Linked DNA regions of Homo sapiens: region 1 is linked to region 2. A link means that fine-mapping ties the variant in region 2 to the expression of a gene that starts in the linked region. Tissue or cell type: prefrontal cortex. Region 2 holds a variant in brackets; the other region holds the start of a gene. All regions are shown on one strand. Distances are from middle to middle.

What was found. PIP is the estimated chance that this variant, and not a neighbour inherited with it, causes the effect.
Region 1: CHCHD6 starts here. The variant in region 2 is fine-mapped to the expression of CHCHD6 in prefrontal cortex (ROSMAP, PIP 0.95).

The regions. Positions count from the first base shown.
Region 1 is chr3:126,699,864-126,708,039 of GRCh38, forward strand. CHCHD6 (coiled-coil-helix-coiled-coil-helix domain containing 6) reads left to right here and starts at 4,377. Exons shown (of 8, transcript NM_032343.3): 1 at 4,377-4,536. The coding sequence starts at 4,450. RefSeq lists enhancers at 3,957-4,016, 5,077-5,628 and a silencer at 4,567-4,766.
Region 2 is chr3:126,941,497-126,949,672 of GRCh38, forward strand. All of the region lies in intron 6 of CHCHD6 (coiled-coil-helix-coiled-coil-helix domain containing 6), which reads left to right. Among named protein-coding and RNA genes, the nearest start is that of PLXNA1, 38 kb to the right of the region's middle. The variant A/G (reference allele first, on the strand shown) is at 3,285.

The DNA.
Region 1 (8,176 bases), 240 kb before region 2:
TTTTAGTAGAGATGGGGTTTCACCATGTTGGTCAGGCTGATCTCAAACCCCTGACCTCAAATGATCTGCCTGCCTCAGTCTCTCAAAGTGCTGGGATTACAGGCGTGAGCCACTGTGCCTGGCCAGAACTTGTTCATCTTATAACTAAAGTTTGTACCCTTTGACCATTTCCCCATGCCCCCACTTCCTAATCCCTGGTAACCAATGTTCTATTCTGCTTCTATGAGTTCAACTTTTTTAGATTCCACATATAAGTGAGATCATACAGTATTTGTCTTTCTGTGCCTGGCTTATTTCACTTAGCAAAATGTCCTCCAGGTTCGTCCATGTTGTCACAAATGGCAGGATTTCCTTTTTTATGGCTGGATAAAACACGCGTGTGTGTGTGTGTGTGTATGTATATATATGTGTGTGTAAAACATTTTATCTGCTCATCTGTTGATGGACACAGGTTGTTTCCATATTTTGGGTATTTTGAATAATACTACAATGGACATGGGGGAGCAGATATATTTTCAAGATTTCATTTCCTTTAGATATATACTGTTAAAGGAAAAACTTGAGACTGATTAAAGAGTTTGAGAAAAGGACAAGTTACAAATCAGGGAGCCCCCCAAATCAGAATAGCTTCAAAGAGACTTCAGTGCTGCCAGTGGGGTTGGAGAGGATTTAGGGACAGGAAAAGGAAAATGACATAAATAAAATGGAAGTGAAATACAGAAATAGCCAGATTGGTTACAGCTGGGTTACAGACTTATTTGAACACCGAACAGTTGGCCACCTGTGAGTAGTATGTCTTCTGATTGGCTGAGACTTGGCTACTTGTTATAAGAGTAGGTTACAGTCTGTTTACACATCCAGTTAGATTACAGTTCACTATGTATGGATCAACCTTTAGGCTGAACTTACAAGGAAGCAGCTTTAGGCTAAAGTTAACTATACAGAAATAGGATTATTAGATTGTATTGACTTTTGGGGGAGTTGCCATACTCTCTCCCATAATGGCTCTACAAATTTATATTCCCACCAGCAGTGTGCAGGGTTCTCTTTTCTCTACATCCTCACCAACACTTCTCTTGTCTTTATTACAATACTGATTCTCACAGGTGTAAGGTGATATCTCACCATGGTTTTAATTTGCATTTCTCTGATGATTAGTGGTGTTGAGCGCTCTTCATATGCCTGTTAGCTATTCACATGTCTTCTTCAGAAAAATGTCTATTCAAGTCCTTTGCCCATTTTTAAATTGGGTATTTATTTTTGCTATTGAGTTGTGTGAGTTCCTTATAGAGTATATTTGGATATTAAGCACTTATCAGATATATGGTGCCCAAATATTTTCTCCCAGTCTGTAGGTTGCCTTTTCAGTTTGCTGCTTGTTTCCTCTTATGTGGAGAAGCTTTTTTAGTTTGATGTCATACCATTCGTTTATTTTTACTTTTGTTGTTTGTGCTTTTGGTGTTATAGCCAAAAAAATTATCATCAAGACCAATGATAAGAAGCTTTCCACCTATGTTTTCTTCTAGGAGTTTTGGGGTTTCAGATCTCACATTTAAGTCTTCAATTCATTTTGAATGGATTTTTTATGTGGTGTAATACAAGGGTCCAATTTCCTTCTTTTGAATGTGGATATCCCGTATTTCCAGCTCCAATTATTGAAGAGACTTTCCTTTCTCCATAGTGTGTATATTCTCGGCACCATTATCAAACATTAGTAGACCATATATGCATGGGCTCTCTATTTTTCTGCATTGATCTATGTATCTATTTTTATGCCAGTACCATACTCTTTTGATTACTACAGCTTTGTAATATAGTTTGAAATCAGGGAGTATGATGCCTTCAGCTTTCTGCTTCTTTCTCAAGATTGCTTTGATGATTTGGGGTCTTTTGTGGTTCCATATGAAATGTTAGAATTGTTTTTTCTATTTATGTGAAAAATGTCATTAGAATTTTGATAATGATGACATTGAATGTGTAGATTACTTTGGGTAGTAAAGCCATTTTAACAATATTAATTCTTCTGATCTATAAACACAGGCTATCTTTCTACTTATTTATGTCTCCTATAGTATCTTTCAACAGTGTCTTATAATTTTTAGTGTGCAATTTTTTGTGTGCATCTTTCTTTCACCTCCTTGGTTAAATTTATTCATATTTTATTCTTTTTGGTGTTATTGTAAGTGGGATCATTTTCTTAATTTCTTTTTGAATAGTTTGTTGTCAGAAATCAGTAATAGGAAGAACTTTGGAAAATTCACACATGTGCGGAAATTAAACAACACATTCCTGAACAGCCAATGAGCCAAAGAATAAATCAAAAGGGGAATAAACAAGTATCTTGAGACAAATGAAAATGGAAACACAAGGTACCACAACTTATAGGATGCAATAGAAACATTTTTAAGAGGGAAGTTTATAGCGAAAAATACCTACATTAAGAAAAAAGAAAGACATCAAACAACCTAATTTTATATCTCAAGGAACTAGAAGAGGAACAAACTAAGCCCCAAAGTCAGCAGACTGAAGGAAATAAAAAAGATGAGAGCAGAAATAGAAACTAGAAAAACAACAGAAAAGATCAACAGTAAAGATCAACAAAATTAACAAACCTTAGCTAGACTAACCAAGAAAAAAGGTAATTCACATAAACAAAAGTATAAATGAAAGAGGAGACATTACAACTGATATCACAGAAATACAAAAGATCATAATCAACTACTATGAACAATTATACACCAAGAAACTGGATAATTTAGGAGAAATGGACGAATTCCCAGAAACATACCATCTATCCAAACTGAGTCTTGAAGAAACAGAAAATCTGAACAGACCAATAACGAGTAAGGAGATTGAATTAGTAATCATAAACCTCCAAGGAAAAGAGACAAAGGAAAGCCCAGGACCAGGTCTGACCACATCTTTACTCAGTTTTCCCCGCGGCCCCCGGTCCCCACCCCTCTTAGCCTGTCTCCCTAACTTCCTTTCTCCTGAGGTGCTCCCCCAGGAAACTCCTTGCACCAGAATCCCCTACGCAGGCTCTGCTTATAGGGAAGAAATGGACGACAGAGGTGATGGAGTGGGGTGCGCCAATGAAGTATTTTGAATGAAACTAGCAGACACCTTTGTTCCTAAAGATTCCATCGTCACACCAGCTCTGGGATGTTTACTAGCTTCTTCACCCTGAGCTATTCTCAATCTCAGAGCCTTACTGCTCTCTCTCAATCATTCTCTCCTCCTCACCCCTTTCTTTCCAGGTTGCCAATAGGAGCTCCAAATATTTTCTGGCTATTTCATGTAGCCATCTAGTTTTCCTCAGCTCGGCTTCAGGCGCACTTTTGCAAATCAAAGCCATTCAGCAACTCAGAGGAACAAAAAGGGGCTTATTTGAAGGTAGCAGTGTCTATGACTGGCAACCGTCTGTGTGCTCCCTTACACATAGGGTCCTGTGTAAGAAGCCTACACACAATGCCTGGCACACTGCACTCCACACATGGTATGTACACTCCTTGGGCAATGCCTCCTAACGGCTTAGGACCATTCCCTGTCCTCCCGGGGCGTTTAGAATAAAACCCACACTCAGACCCTGCCTCACAAGACCCGACATGATTTGGGTCCTCACCACTCCTCTGCCCTCTTCTCACTTTCCAGCCATGGGATGACCCCTCTTTCTCTTTTCCTGCCTGAGACTCCCAGGAAACCTCTTCCCCTACCTTTTTCTACATAAATCCTACTCTCCCGCCGGCTCAGTTCAAAGCTTCTTCCTCAGAGGTTGCTCTGGCCACTGAAATTAAAAGAGGCCTCCTTCTGTTCATTTTACTAGTGGCATCGCCATGCAGTTTTCCGTGTATTACAGTCAGTTTCCTTGCGTGCGTGTTTGGCTTTTCACTTGTTTTCCCCTTGCACTGTAAACCTCTCAAGGGCAGGACACTCGCTGTCTTGAGGGGCGCTGTAATGCCAGGGCCAGGTCCCTGCTCGTCTGGCGCTCAGCCCGTGCTGCTCTACACGTGTTTGCTGAATGAATGGAGCAGTGAACCCTCAGAAATTCGCCTCCAGATGAGCGCCTTGGCCGTCTCGGCGTCTCCTGGCCTCAGAACATCACCCTTGGCTCTCCCTCAAGGGGGAGCTCCCAAAGCGAGAACGTGACCCTGTCCTGCACCCAGCCCTCCACTCCAGGGCCTCCGCCGGTACACATCTTCGGCCTCAGCCTAACGCACTCTAGCAGGCACAGACCGCCACGCCCCCACCCCTCCAGACGGAAGGACTGCAATCCCCACAAGGCACCGCGACTCAGCGCCACCCGATTGGTGAAGCCTCTGGCGTCGGCCAATAGGACGTGGCTTTGTTGGCGTGTGCCGCGGCCGCGCGAGTCCTGGAAAGCGTTGTTGGCCCGGTTGCTCTGGAGCCGGGTCTCGGGTCTGGTGGCTGCCGGCCCTGCGGCATCTCGCCATGGGGAGCACGGAGAGCAGCGAGGGCCGCAGGGTGTCCTTCGGAGTGGACGAGGAGGAGCGGGTCCGGGTGCTGCAGGGTGTCCGGGTGAGCGGCGCCGCCTGGGCCGGGGCGGGCGTGGAGGCCGCGGGCGCGGGGGGGAGGTGCGGGGCGGAGCGCAGGGCCGGGGCTCTTTCCACGCGTGAGGGGCGTGGGGCTTGGGAGACTCCGGGGGCTCAGGCCAGGAAGAGGCTGAGCCGAGACGCGAGCCCGAGGCTGGCAGCCTTGGAGCTTCGCGACATGGGCTTCAGGGAAGGAGGAGTGAAGAACTGTACAGGTGCGAGGCCCCTGGGACACGAGGGACGCCCTGGCCACGTCCTGGCTCCGGTCGGCTTAGTTTTTACGTTTCTTGAATTTGCGCCCGGCCTCCCAGCCCGTGGCCCCTCAGGTGCGCGCATCTCGTTCTGGGTACGCGGTGTCTCCCACCTGGGCTTTGCCTGGGGACTCAGCTCTTCCCCGCCGGCCTGTTCTCCACAGCACATCTGCGGGGCGCAGGAAGAACCATAGCTCAGATCTGATCCCCTTCCTTGCCTGAAACCCTCCAGTGGGTTCCTAGCGCGCTTGGATGATGCCTTCCCTGGTTCCAAAGCTGGCCGCTGCCCGTCGACCTCTGGGGACTGCATCCCTCTGGGACTGCATCTCGTGCCATTTCCCTCGCGTGGCACCCGCACCTCGTCCCCAGCCTCAGGACCGCCGTGTTTTCCTGGAGGGTGCCGCTGGCTCAGCTCAGGGTCTGTGCGCCGGCTGTTCTCTCTCCTTCAGCTCTCCTTAAATCCCGCTGTTTCTTGTAATTCTTGTTGTAATTCAGATATCACCAGAGAATCCTTCCCTGACCACCCAATCTGAAGTAACCTCCCACCCCGCGTCCAACATTTATTATTTTCATAGCACTCATCACAGTGATCGCTTCTGTTGATAATTGTTTACTTGTTTATTGCGTTTACTGCTAGAGTGTAAGCTTTTTGAGGCTAAGGTTCCTGTCTGATTGAAGACTGTCCCCAGAACCCAGAAGAATAAAAGCAGCTCTTATTGCAGTGTAGGGGCCATGCGTTGGACTAAACCCTTTATAAGTTAACTGATTTAATTTTCAACAGCCCTATTTAGCCCATTATTGTAGATTAAGGAGAAGTGAGGCACTGAGAGGTGAACGAACTGATCCAAGATCATGTAAATAGTAAGTGGGAGAGCTGGGATTGAAACAAGCCAATTCCAGGGCATGTTGCTGTGCTCGGCCTCTTCCTCCACCTGTGTCTACACCTGCAGGTGCTTTGTAAGTAACTGTGGAGAGATGAATGAACCCAGTAAAAGGGACTAGGATTAAATGAAACGCACAGAGCTGGGTGTAGATGAATTAGTTAATTAAGGAGGAATTAGGGAGGTGGCTTAGAAAGACAGACTTCAGGAGTTCTGGCAGGTGCTCATTAGCTGTGTGACCTTGGGTAAAAAACTCTTTTGAGCCTCAATGGCCACATTAAAAAAAAAATTGGGTGTGTATGTATCCTAGGTACTGCCTAGGATAAGATGATGTCTGTGAAAGTGTTAAGGAAACGCACAGAGAGAGTGCTTTGTGGAGGCCTCTCTTCTTAGCCTAGCAGAGTACTTGGCACATTTGGTGCTTGCTAGGCGTTGTATAGTTTTGTGGACCTCACTCGTGGCAAGGATTAAATGGGGGAGGAGATGGCTTGTGTTGGAAGGCCGAGAGGGAGGAACCTGAATTGGAATTTAGAAAGATAAGCTTGGCTCTGTTTGGGTGCTCTCACCCTTGTGATTTGGTCTCCTGTTTTGGGGAATGTTGGAAAGTTAAGTTGGAGTCCTCAGAGGTTCAGGGGAGTGCCTTTGGGGGTGCCTTCTTTCAAGTTGATTGGAAACCTCATGTTTTTTGAGTATTATATAAGACAGGTACATTTCATTTCTAGTTCTCTTAAATACTTCTGCAACATATAAATTCTCTGTATTTAAAGATGGAGAATTGAGCTTAAAGGAGTTAAGGAATTTGCCCAAGGTGTTAACCTGAGTAACTTCTGGGACTTTAATTAAGATCTTTTCGGTGCAAAAAGCAACTTTTTCTCACTTCTGCAATTCCCCCCCATGATGTATGCAAGGCAGCCTGAAAATTTTGTGACAATACCCATACCTGTCCTGACAGGGATGATAGTGCCCCACTTAGTTTTAAAACTGGAAGGAACTTTGGTGACTGACTGCTTTCTTTTCCAGCTGGGCAAACTAATCAGAGAGGATAAATGACTTGTCCAGAGGTGCACAGTAAGGTGCACAGCCCCACGTTATGAGAGCCACGTCCTTCCTTCTGCTTGTGTTTGAAAGAGGAAAACTGAAGAAAGGAGGTGATGGTATGAAGAAAGGATGTTTTGGTGTAGAGGCTTTTTCTGTTAGCAGAGTTACTTGAGGGTTGAGGAATTCACCTTGTCTTTAGGCAAGTGAGTGAAAAAGATTGCCAGATCAACAAAACAGTTGCCAAAGGGAACAAATCAGTTCATTTAATGAGAAGCAGATGCCAAAGAAGATCTGCCCCAGCTTCTTTAGAGCAAGTTGAATATTCTTAATGACCATTTGTATTTAATTCCTGAGGCCTGGTCTTAGAAAGTGTTCTCGTCCCTGTAAGATTAAGTGTTAGTGGCTGGTAGTGGTGGCTCATGCCTGTAATTTCAGCACTTTGGGAGGCCGAAGTGGGCAGATCACCTGAGGTCAGGAGTTAAAGACCAGTCTGGCCAACATGGTGAAACCCTGCCTCTACCAAAAATACAAAAGTTAGCTGGGCATGGTGGCACACACCTGTACACCCAGCTACTTGGGAGGCTGAGGTAGGAGAATCCTTGAACCCAGGAGGGGGAGGTTGCAGTGAGCCGAGATTATGCCAGTGTCCTCCAGCCTGGGTGACAGAGACTCCGTCTTAAAAAAAAAAAAAAAAAAGATTAAGTGCTAGGCCTTGCTAGTTTACATACTTAGTTTGCATAAATTCACAAAGTGTGTTCAAACCGTAATTCCATGGAAGGTAAAAGAAATTTAATGAATGCAAAATGCTGCAGTTATATTCAACTCCAGTTTTCAGAGCAAATGTGTGAAATACGTAAAGATTTTGTTTTAACCAGTACATTTAACCTCATCCTTCAGTAAGAGAAGGCACACATGGCAGTCATGGCGCATATGTGTCTGCCTTCCCTCTCCTCCTCTCCACATGAGCCGCCCTTTTTGGTGATTCAGCTGATGTTGGTTGCTTGTGAGCATCCAGACTGCTCACTGTTCACCAGCCTTTCCCCCTTTCCCACCACTGAGCCCACCCCTGTTCCAGTCACTTGCATGTTCCCAGAGTCATTATCCCCTCCAGGCTTGATCAACTTTACCGTCATGCATTGCTCCCATGAGGCTGATTCTGGACCACGGTGGAGGGGAAGATCAAGAAGAATGTGGTCAGACACACAAGAGAGTCCCCCATTGTGCCAGTGCCAGAGAGGCCGTGTGCCAGAGCGCTGCACCTGCAACTGCCAGTTATTCCTCACCTCAGTGAATGTCCACTGCCTTCATGTTACTTGCCCAGCACTGGGCCTGGCCTTGCTGAGACAATGAGGGACAAAGCCGAGGACCCTGTCATCATAGAGACCTCAGCCCAGTAGGGAGAATGGACCAGAAAGGAAGAGACACAGGCAAAAGACTCAAAGAGCTGCCAGAGCTA
Region 2 (8,176 bases):
ACTTTGTCAAACTTTCCCAACCCCACTCCCAGCCAGGAGAAGAAAATCTAGATAGACTCTTTTTTTGGGGGATAAGTGCGTCCTTTTGAGTACATCCAGTTCTATCAAATTGCCGTCACTGTTGGTCTATTTTGAAATAATTTCAAACCCATAGAAAGATTGTAAGAACAAACACCACAAAGGATTCCTGCATCTCCTTAACCAAGATTCCCTGATTTTTTACATGTTACAGAATTTGCTTCATCACCTTTTCTCTCTAGATGAAAACATTGTCTTTTTCTGACATGATAACTCCTTACCCCTAAATACTTCCATGCACCATGGGCCTCCCAAGAATACCTCCTCCTTGGTCACCTCACACTGCTGCCGATGAGGAAATCAGCACTGACTCAACAGGACTGTCAGCCCACAGACCACACTTCACCTGCTACCCTAATGTTGTCGTTTCCTTTCTGGTCCAGGAATCTGTCATGCATCATCAGCTCCTTCATATGGAACAGTTCCTTACTCTTTCGTGTCTCTCTCCACCCTGACAGACTTGAAGAAAGTGCAGGGCTTTCATCTGTAGGGAGAGCCCCAGCCCTGGCCCACCTGGTGTTTCCTCATGACCAGACTCAAGCCGTGCATTCTTGGCAGGAAGACCCCAGAACTGGTGCTATGTTTGTGAGGTGCATCCCATCAGTAGGTTCAAGAGGCCACCTGTCCTACCACTAGTGATGCTGACCTAGACCTGGTCACATTGGTATCTCCACGGTCTCCCTGCTGTGAAGGCCTTATTTTCCCTTTGTGTTTGCTTAGTATTTTGTGGGGGAGATACTCCAGTGTTATGCCAGTATCCTGATCCTCATCTAACTTCCACCCATCAGCCTTAGCTTCCATTGAGAACATTGTGATGATCTATTTCCATCATTTCTTCTACATTTATGAATTGATATTCTATTAAAGGAGGAGTTTCCCCTTCTCTCTTTAGTTATGTAACTATTCATTTATTTGGTTATGTTAGTAAGGAGTCAAGGACTCATATTTATTCATTGGGCTATAATCTATAACTTATTTTAATATTCAAAATGCCATAGATTTTGCCCTTCAAACTGACTCTCCTTCCTTTGGCATGTCTCTTCATTATTTACTTTCTAGCGCAAGGTGTTCAGGCTCATCTTGTCCTTTCTCTGCCCCAGCCCTGGAGTCAGCCGTTTCTCCCAGGAGCCACATTCCTTCTGTTGGAGGATGCTGCTAGAAACCATGCTCTGGGATCTGAGCTCCGGGTGTGCTCCCTGCTATGGAGGTGTCATTGCTTCTAGGTGCTCTCAGTGGGAAGAGCTGGGAAACATGGATGTGTGTACACAGAGTGCATGTGTATGTAGATGTGTGTGCATGTACATCCACAGTGCATGCGTGAGGACTGCCATCTGTGTGTGGGGGGGAGTATTTCACAAGTCCATAGTGATACTTCCAGTTCTAATATCTGGAGGCTCTTTGTAGGGCTCTCTCTCTCTCCTTTTCCATGTGTAAATCTCCCTTCTCATAGAGCATGAGACTTGGCTGTTTTCTTCAACAGGATATGTATTTGCTCAATCAGTGAACTTTTGTTTCAATGTAACCAGTCTCTCAACCATGCCAGCCGCCTTTTCAGCTGCCACGTCCCCTCCTGGACCCCACCGGCTGCCTTAGCTGCAAGCAGGCCACTGCCACCACCTCCTAATGACGCCCCCCACTACCACCCCACTCCCTGTGACTTCTGCTGGGAGGGAAAAGGACAATTGAAGGACAAGGCTTTCATTCTTTGTTTTTTCGGAAAACAACTCAAAGTCCTTTCGTGACTTCAGGTTGATGGAAGTTAGGAAATCGGAACAGAGTGTGCCTTCACCTCTGCATGGCTGTGGGATGTGTCCACTTTCCCTCTGCCTCGTTTTGCCTCCTCACCTGGGGTCAGGTTGTATCAGGTGTCTTGCCAGACCCCAGTAGCGGGTGGCTGACCCTGTGGTTGTTCTAAGGGAAGTCAGTTCTGGTCCAAAGCCAAGGTGTGGCAGTAGAAGTTGAGGCACATTTTCTGGGTGCTTTCTATCCTAAAAACACATGGTCTGCAGTCCCCCTTTTTCTGGGTGACATGAGGTACGGTGAGAGGTGAGTCCTGGAGGACCTCTTTGGCCTCCTCTGGTGTCCGTGATGGGGTAGCGAGGTAGGGCTGTCATAATGAAGGAGGCCCAGTGTCTGAGAGCTCTTCTTTGCAATACTTAGGGTTTACCACGGTGTTCTGTGCAGCTCCAGTTTCTGAATGTGCTCGAGGAAGACAGTAGAGGGAGGGGAAAGGGTCATAGATGGGGGGCCCAGGTCTTCTGGGAGGCCCTATAGGAATCTGTTTTTCCTTTTAGGTTATGAGTGAGCTGCCAGCTGATAAAACACTATCGCAGCTTAAAAAACTATGAACTTCATGAAAACTAATTCAGAATGGACCATAGACCTAAATGTAAAACGCAAAACTGTGAAACTCCTAGAAGATAACATAGGAGAAAAAGATGTCCTTGGGTTTGATGATGACTCTTAGATATAATGCCAAACAGTGCATGAAAGGAAGAATTGATAAGTTGGATCCACAGTGAGGATGGGAGAAGGAGGTAGGTTACAGAATTTCCACACACCTGGCAATAGGCGCTGAGCTGTGTTCAGGAATAGAAGCTAAGAGAAGGTGAGAATGCAGGACACGGCATGGCCCAGACAGACGCCTGTTCAGCCAGGGGCTGGGCACATGGTCCAGGGCTCAGCCCACCGGGTTACAAAGGCCCCAGGTCAGACTGCACACATCCACATCTGGTGTGTCAGTCAGATCTGGCCTCTGCCCCTAGAAGCTGGAAGAAGGTGGAGCCCCAATGACTTAATTATTGATGCTCTGCCTACCTCAATTTATTTATAGAATATCTGCTTCCTGCATAGTATTCTGTGAGGACCTTACAGCCGAGGTAATAAGCTGTGGTTCCTGGCTTCCAGGCACTCCTGTCTAGTGGGGAGACAGCATGTCCCACATGACTGGGTGCAGTGTGCTCAGATGGTCTATGTCACAGGACCCTCTCAGGTGAGCAGGCCAGGGAGGCCACAGAGCAGAAGTGACACTGGGTCAGTAACACTTCCTCCCAGTGAGAGGGGACAGAGAGGCGGGGCTGGCGGCCTGTCCACATAGGACTACACAGACGCACAGCACCTGTGTGACAGCGGGAAGAAGGGCAGGTAACCTTCAGGGGAAGTTGTGGTTAGCAGACAGACATGGGGGCAGATTGGAGAAGGAGTCA[A/G]GAGTGTTCCTGAAATCTGGGGCCCAGTGGCCCAGGCGTGGGGGCAGTTGATGACAATCAGGCAGGATGGAGACTTACCTTCTCCTCAGGACTGGGTCCTAGAGGGGCCGGAATGCCTCGCTGTGGAGTTGGCCTTGCCTCTAGGCCTTGTGGCTGTGGGTGGGTGAGAGGGGTCCCTGAGGGCAGGGCAGAGGTTTCATTGTTTGTGAGTCTGGTCACCATGGGATGGGCACTTAGTAAATAGTTGTCCCTTGAAGGAAGGAAGGACATTCATTTAGCATAGGTCTTTACGGGGGCGTTTTAGGCTGGTACGATGGAGTTTGTGGAAAAGGCTGGGGAGAAGAGGCCAGGTAGGAGGGAGGCTCAGGGCAGCAGAGCAGGCACGGGCGGCTCTTGTGAGGAGGACTTTGGCTCACTGTGAACTGGCCATGTGCTTGTGTGGAGCTGGCCAGCCCTCGGGTTCTGGGAGCTCTGACCTTCAGGATTGCTGAGGCCAAAGCACAGAGCTGGAAGGGCAGGCCTGTGGGGGGCGCCATCCTCTGGGGAGCTTTGGGCCAGAGCACCCCCACCATCATGAGTCAGAAAGATCCCTCTAGTTGATGTCAGCAAGGAGCCAGGCTGGAGGAGCAGACTCGAGCAGGGAGACTTGGGTTGGGAAGACTCGAGTGGGGAGACTTGGGAGCGGGGAAAGTCGGGAACAGGGAGACTCTAGGTGGGAGACTCAGGGGAGACTTGGGAGGGGGGAGACTTGAATAGAGAGACTCGGGACGGGGAGACTCAGTGTAGGGGAGACTCGGTGTGGCGGAGACTTGATGGGGGAGACTCGGTGTGGGGGAGACTTGATGGGGGAGACTCAAGTCGGGAGACTCAGGGAGACTCAAGCGGGGAGACTTGGGAGATTCGGGGGAAGACTCAAGCGGGGAGACTCGGGGAGACTCGAGTAGGGAGACATGGGGAGACTCGGGGGGAGACTTGAGTGGGGAGACTCGAGCGGGGACACTCAGGGAGACTCAAGGCAGGAGACATGGGGAGACTAAAGGGGTAAACTTGGGGAGACTTGAGGGGGGAAGTGAATTAGCCAGAAGGTGAGCTAAAGTTTCCAGCAGAGAGGCGGCAAGGACTCTAAGACGACAGGGGGTGGGGAACAGGCAGCCACCCACAGTCTGGAGTGCTAGGGACCCACCCAGTGCCAGTTGGGTGACAGCTCCCTGCTTTGTTGAGGACCCAGTGCTGAGGGAAGGTCACGTCATAGGATTGTGCTCAAGAGCCTCCCGCAGCCCCACACAGAGCAGGGTTGGGGCAGCCCAAGGACTCCCCTGTGTCCAGAGGCCATGGCTGCAAGGGGCTGCCATGGTGAGTCTCATTGGCAGAAACAGCGCCAGAAAGCTCTTCAGCCACAGGCGGGCTGGAAGTCGTCATCCCCCAGCACCAAAGGCCACCATGGCCCTGCCCTTTCCTTCCGCCTTGCCAAAGCCCAGAAAGCGCCCCACCTGGCTTCCTCTGACATCTAGTGAATGAGGGTGCATCTCCTCTTAGGGAAAGTGTGCATTCTTTATTTTTTTCCAACAAAGAAACAAAGAGGAATGGCCCTTTCTTCTTTCCGTGTGTGTGAGAGAGAAGGGATAGTCCTGGACAATCCTGTCACACGCAGCCTCTGCCTCACTAAGCAGCAGCCAGGGGCTCGTTTGTGTCTCAGGCCCTCTTGGGAGCAATGCACCCCCAGGCTCTCTCGCAAGCCTCAGCTCTCAAACAGGCCCCTCTCCCACCTGAGGGATGGGGCAGCTGGAGCCCGGCATCCTGCAGTTGATAGCAATCCCGTGTGGCGTGTTGATCGATGGCAGGACCTCTGGGTTCCACTTACCCAGGCTGAGTGGCACATCGTCAATAGCAGTCAGTTAACCAAGTCCTTAGTAACCAGCTGGTCTCATCAGCGCCTCAGCCCTAGCCACGGGTTAAAGCAGAAACCCCTCCTGAACAGCTAGATTGGACCTGACCAAGATGAATGTCTAATTCACTCGGAATCTCCTTACTGCTGCCTGTAATAAAAAGCCTGCTCCATGTATTCACCCCCCTGCTGATGTTTCTCTGAAATTAAGTATCAGGAGGACATATAATAGCCCAGTTCCACACCAGGCCAATATTATCAGATTGATGTCAGCAGTGATAATAGGAGAAGGATAAGTTGATGAGATTCCATTTATTAAATAAAGTGAAGAGAGCACACAGAGGATTTGGGGCCACACGTGTGAGCAGGCGCTGGGCGCGCTCCACAGGAGAAAGAGAGAACAGGGCCTGGCGTCTGGTCCCGAATCCCTCTTCTTGCCCACCTGGGAGCTGGAGTGCCCGCCGTCATGGGAACGACTTGGCCACCTACGATGTGTGCGCCCAAGATGGGAAGGTGCCACCCATGCTTCTGCCAGGCTGGTCTCATGACAGGACGCTTCCGCTCACTTCTGTTTGCTTTTCTTCCCACCTCATGTTGATGCTGCAGGCTGCCATGAGTTCATGTCTTCCTCTCTCACTTTCCTCCCTGTGGCTCCTGGGCTGGGAGCTTCCCGGCTGCCCAATGGGAGTTGGCAAGCTTCTGCCCCATGCAGAGCCCTGCCTAATGTGGTTCGGGGCAACTGTCTTTTCTTTTTCTGAGTACCCTTGGTTGTCTCTTTCAGAATGTCTTGGAATTTTCTAATGGCAGAGTGGAGCTCATGTGGCGGTGCAGAGAGCAAGAGCTATGGAGCTGAGCACACTCCACTCTTCCTATCCCGGGCCCCTCTCACTGCTCTGTGACTGCGGGCCAGTCACGTGAGCTGCCTGTGACTTACCAACCCCGTCTGCAGAACGGGGTGGGAAGGCCCAGCTCACAGGGTTGTTGTGAACCTAGAACACAGGAAGCCCTGACAGGCAGAAGTTCCCAAGACCACAGACATCCAGATCCACTCTCAAATGAGGCCGAATTTTCTGCCCGTGCTGTTGACCATCAGCTCCCCTCCCACAGGCTGATCCTCATCCCAGATCTCTCCCAGTGCAGAAGACTTCCTGGGCAGCACCTGGCAGCAGCTTTAGGAACCGGCTCATAAGCTACGGCTCCTCCCCTTTTCCATTATGTGGGTTAAGGTGAGTCAGTTCATCTCTAAATAAAATAACGCCTTACAGGGGAGGACAGAGATTGGAGACACCATGTGCAGACCCTGGCATGGAGCCTGGCATGTGGTGGGCATTGAAGTGTAGCGGCTATTGCTGATGTGCGCCTGGGCCCAGCCACCATGCCGTGGAAAGTGCACACTGCTCTCAGAAAACGATCAGAGATACATTGGTCCCCCGGTCATTCCTGCCCATCCCCGCTCCCCACTCTACTTCTGGGAAACGGGTCCAACCCCTTTGCAGCATGCCTGATGACATGGGTTTCCCAGGGCTGCCAAAACAAAGCACCACATGTCAGGCCTTTCAGCCCAGAAACTTATCCTCTCACAGTTCTGGAGGGCAGAGGTCCACAATTAAGGTGTTGGTGGTCCAGTCTCGCCCTCAGGCTGGAGGGGAAATCTGTTGCAGCCCCTCCTAGGCTGCTGGTGGTGCTGGCATCCTTGGCATTCCGGGACACACATACTGTTGGGCACACACATCGCTCTACTGTCAGCCTCGGTCCCCATAGTGCCTCCTCCCTGTGTTGTGGTCTCTGTGTCTCCTCTCTTCTTCACAAGAGAATATGAATGGGATTCGTACTGGATTAGGGGCCCACCCTACCCCATATGCCCTTGTCTTAACTAATCACATCTGTAACAACCCTGTTTCCCAATAAGGCCATGTTCCGAGGCTCCAGGAAGGACATGAATTTGAGGGGATCATCAAACCCACTAACCTTTGCACATGTCTAGTTCTCAGGAGCCCCTGGACCCCTCAACTTGACCAGGTTGTCTTCTTCTGACAACAATTTGTGACAGGCACCCTCTCCAAACTGACTTAATCCAAAAGTGGAACATATAGGTTTGTGCTACAGGAAAGCTAAAAATAGTACCTGGCTTCGAATTGAGGAACTCATTTGGTGTTAGAGTCTGTTTCCTTTTGGACAGTGGGTCATGGAGTTTGGAAGCCCAGCTTTATGTTCTCCCTGGAAGATCACAGTTTCACCCCATACCTTTCACTGGGCCCATGAATGGGTTCATACTAGCCCAGGCTGGCTCATGTGGGCCAAACCCATGCTACCCAGGCCAGAAGGGGAAACCTGAGAAATAAAGGGGCATCTCTGCCTTACCTGAGAGTCCTGCTGTGTGAAGTCAGTGCATTAATAGACAGTGGTGGCACAGCTCCTGCCTTATAGCACTGCCAGGTCCAGTGTTTCCTTCCCTCCAATGCTCCTGCTTGGCAGAGTCTCAGATACAGCCAGTTGTGTGCTTTGAACCAGCAGGCTGTGCTGCTGACTCTGAGCCAAGGAGAACAGAAGGGACAACCTGACCCTGTCCAACAGTCTGCATTTCCTATCTAGGCACAAACAGGCAACACTTCATAACCCAGTGGCGGCCCTGGACCCAGGAGGTTTGTGCAGTCATGGACAGCTACACAGGCGCCTGCCATGGACGGAAGGGAAGGCTGCACAGACACCTGCCATGGACGGAAAAAGGGAAGGCTGCACCAACAGGTCTGCCGTGGACGGAAGGGAAGGCTGCACGGACTCCTGCTGTGGACGAAAGGGAAGGCTGCCCAGAGGTCTGCCGTGGACGGAAGGGAAGGCTGCTGCGTGGACTGCCGCCGTGGACGGAAGGGAAGGCTGCTGCCCGGACTGCCGCCGTGGACGGAAGGGAAGGCTGCTGCCCGGACTGCCGCCGTGGACGGAAGGGAAGGCTGCTGCCCGGACTGCCGCCGTGGACGGAAGGGAAGGCTGCTGCGCGGACTGCCGCCGT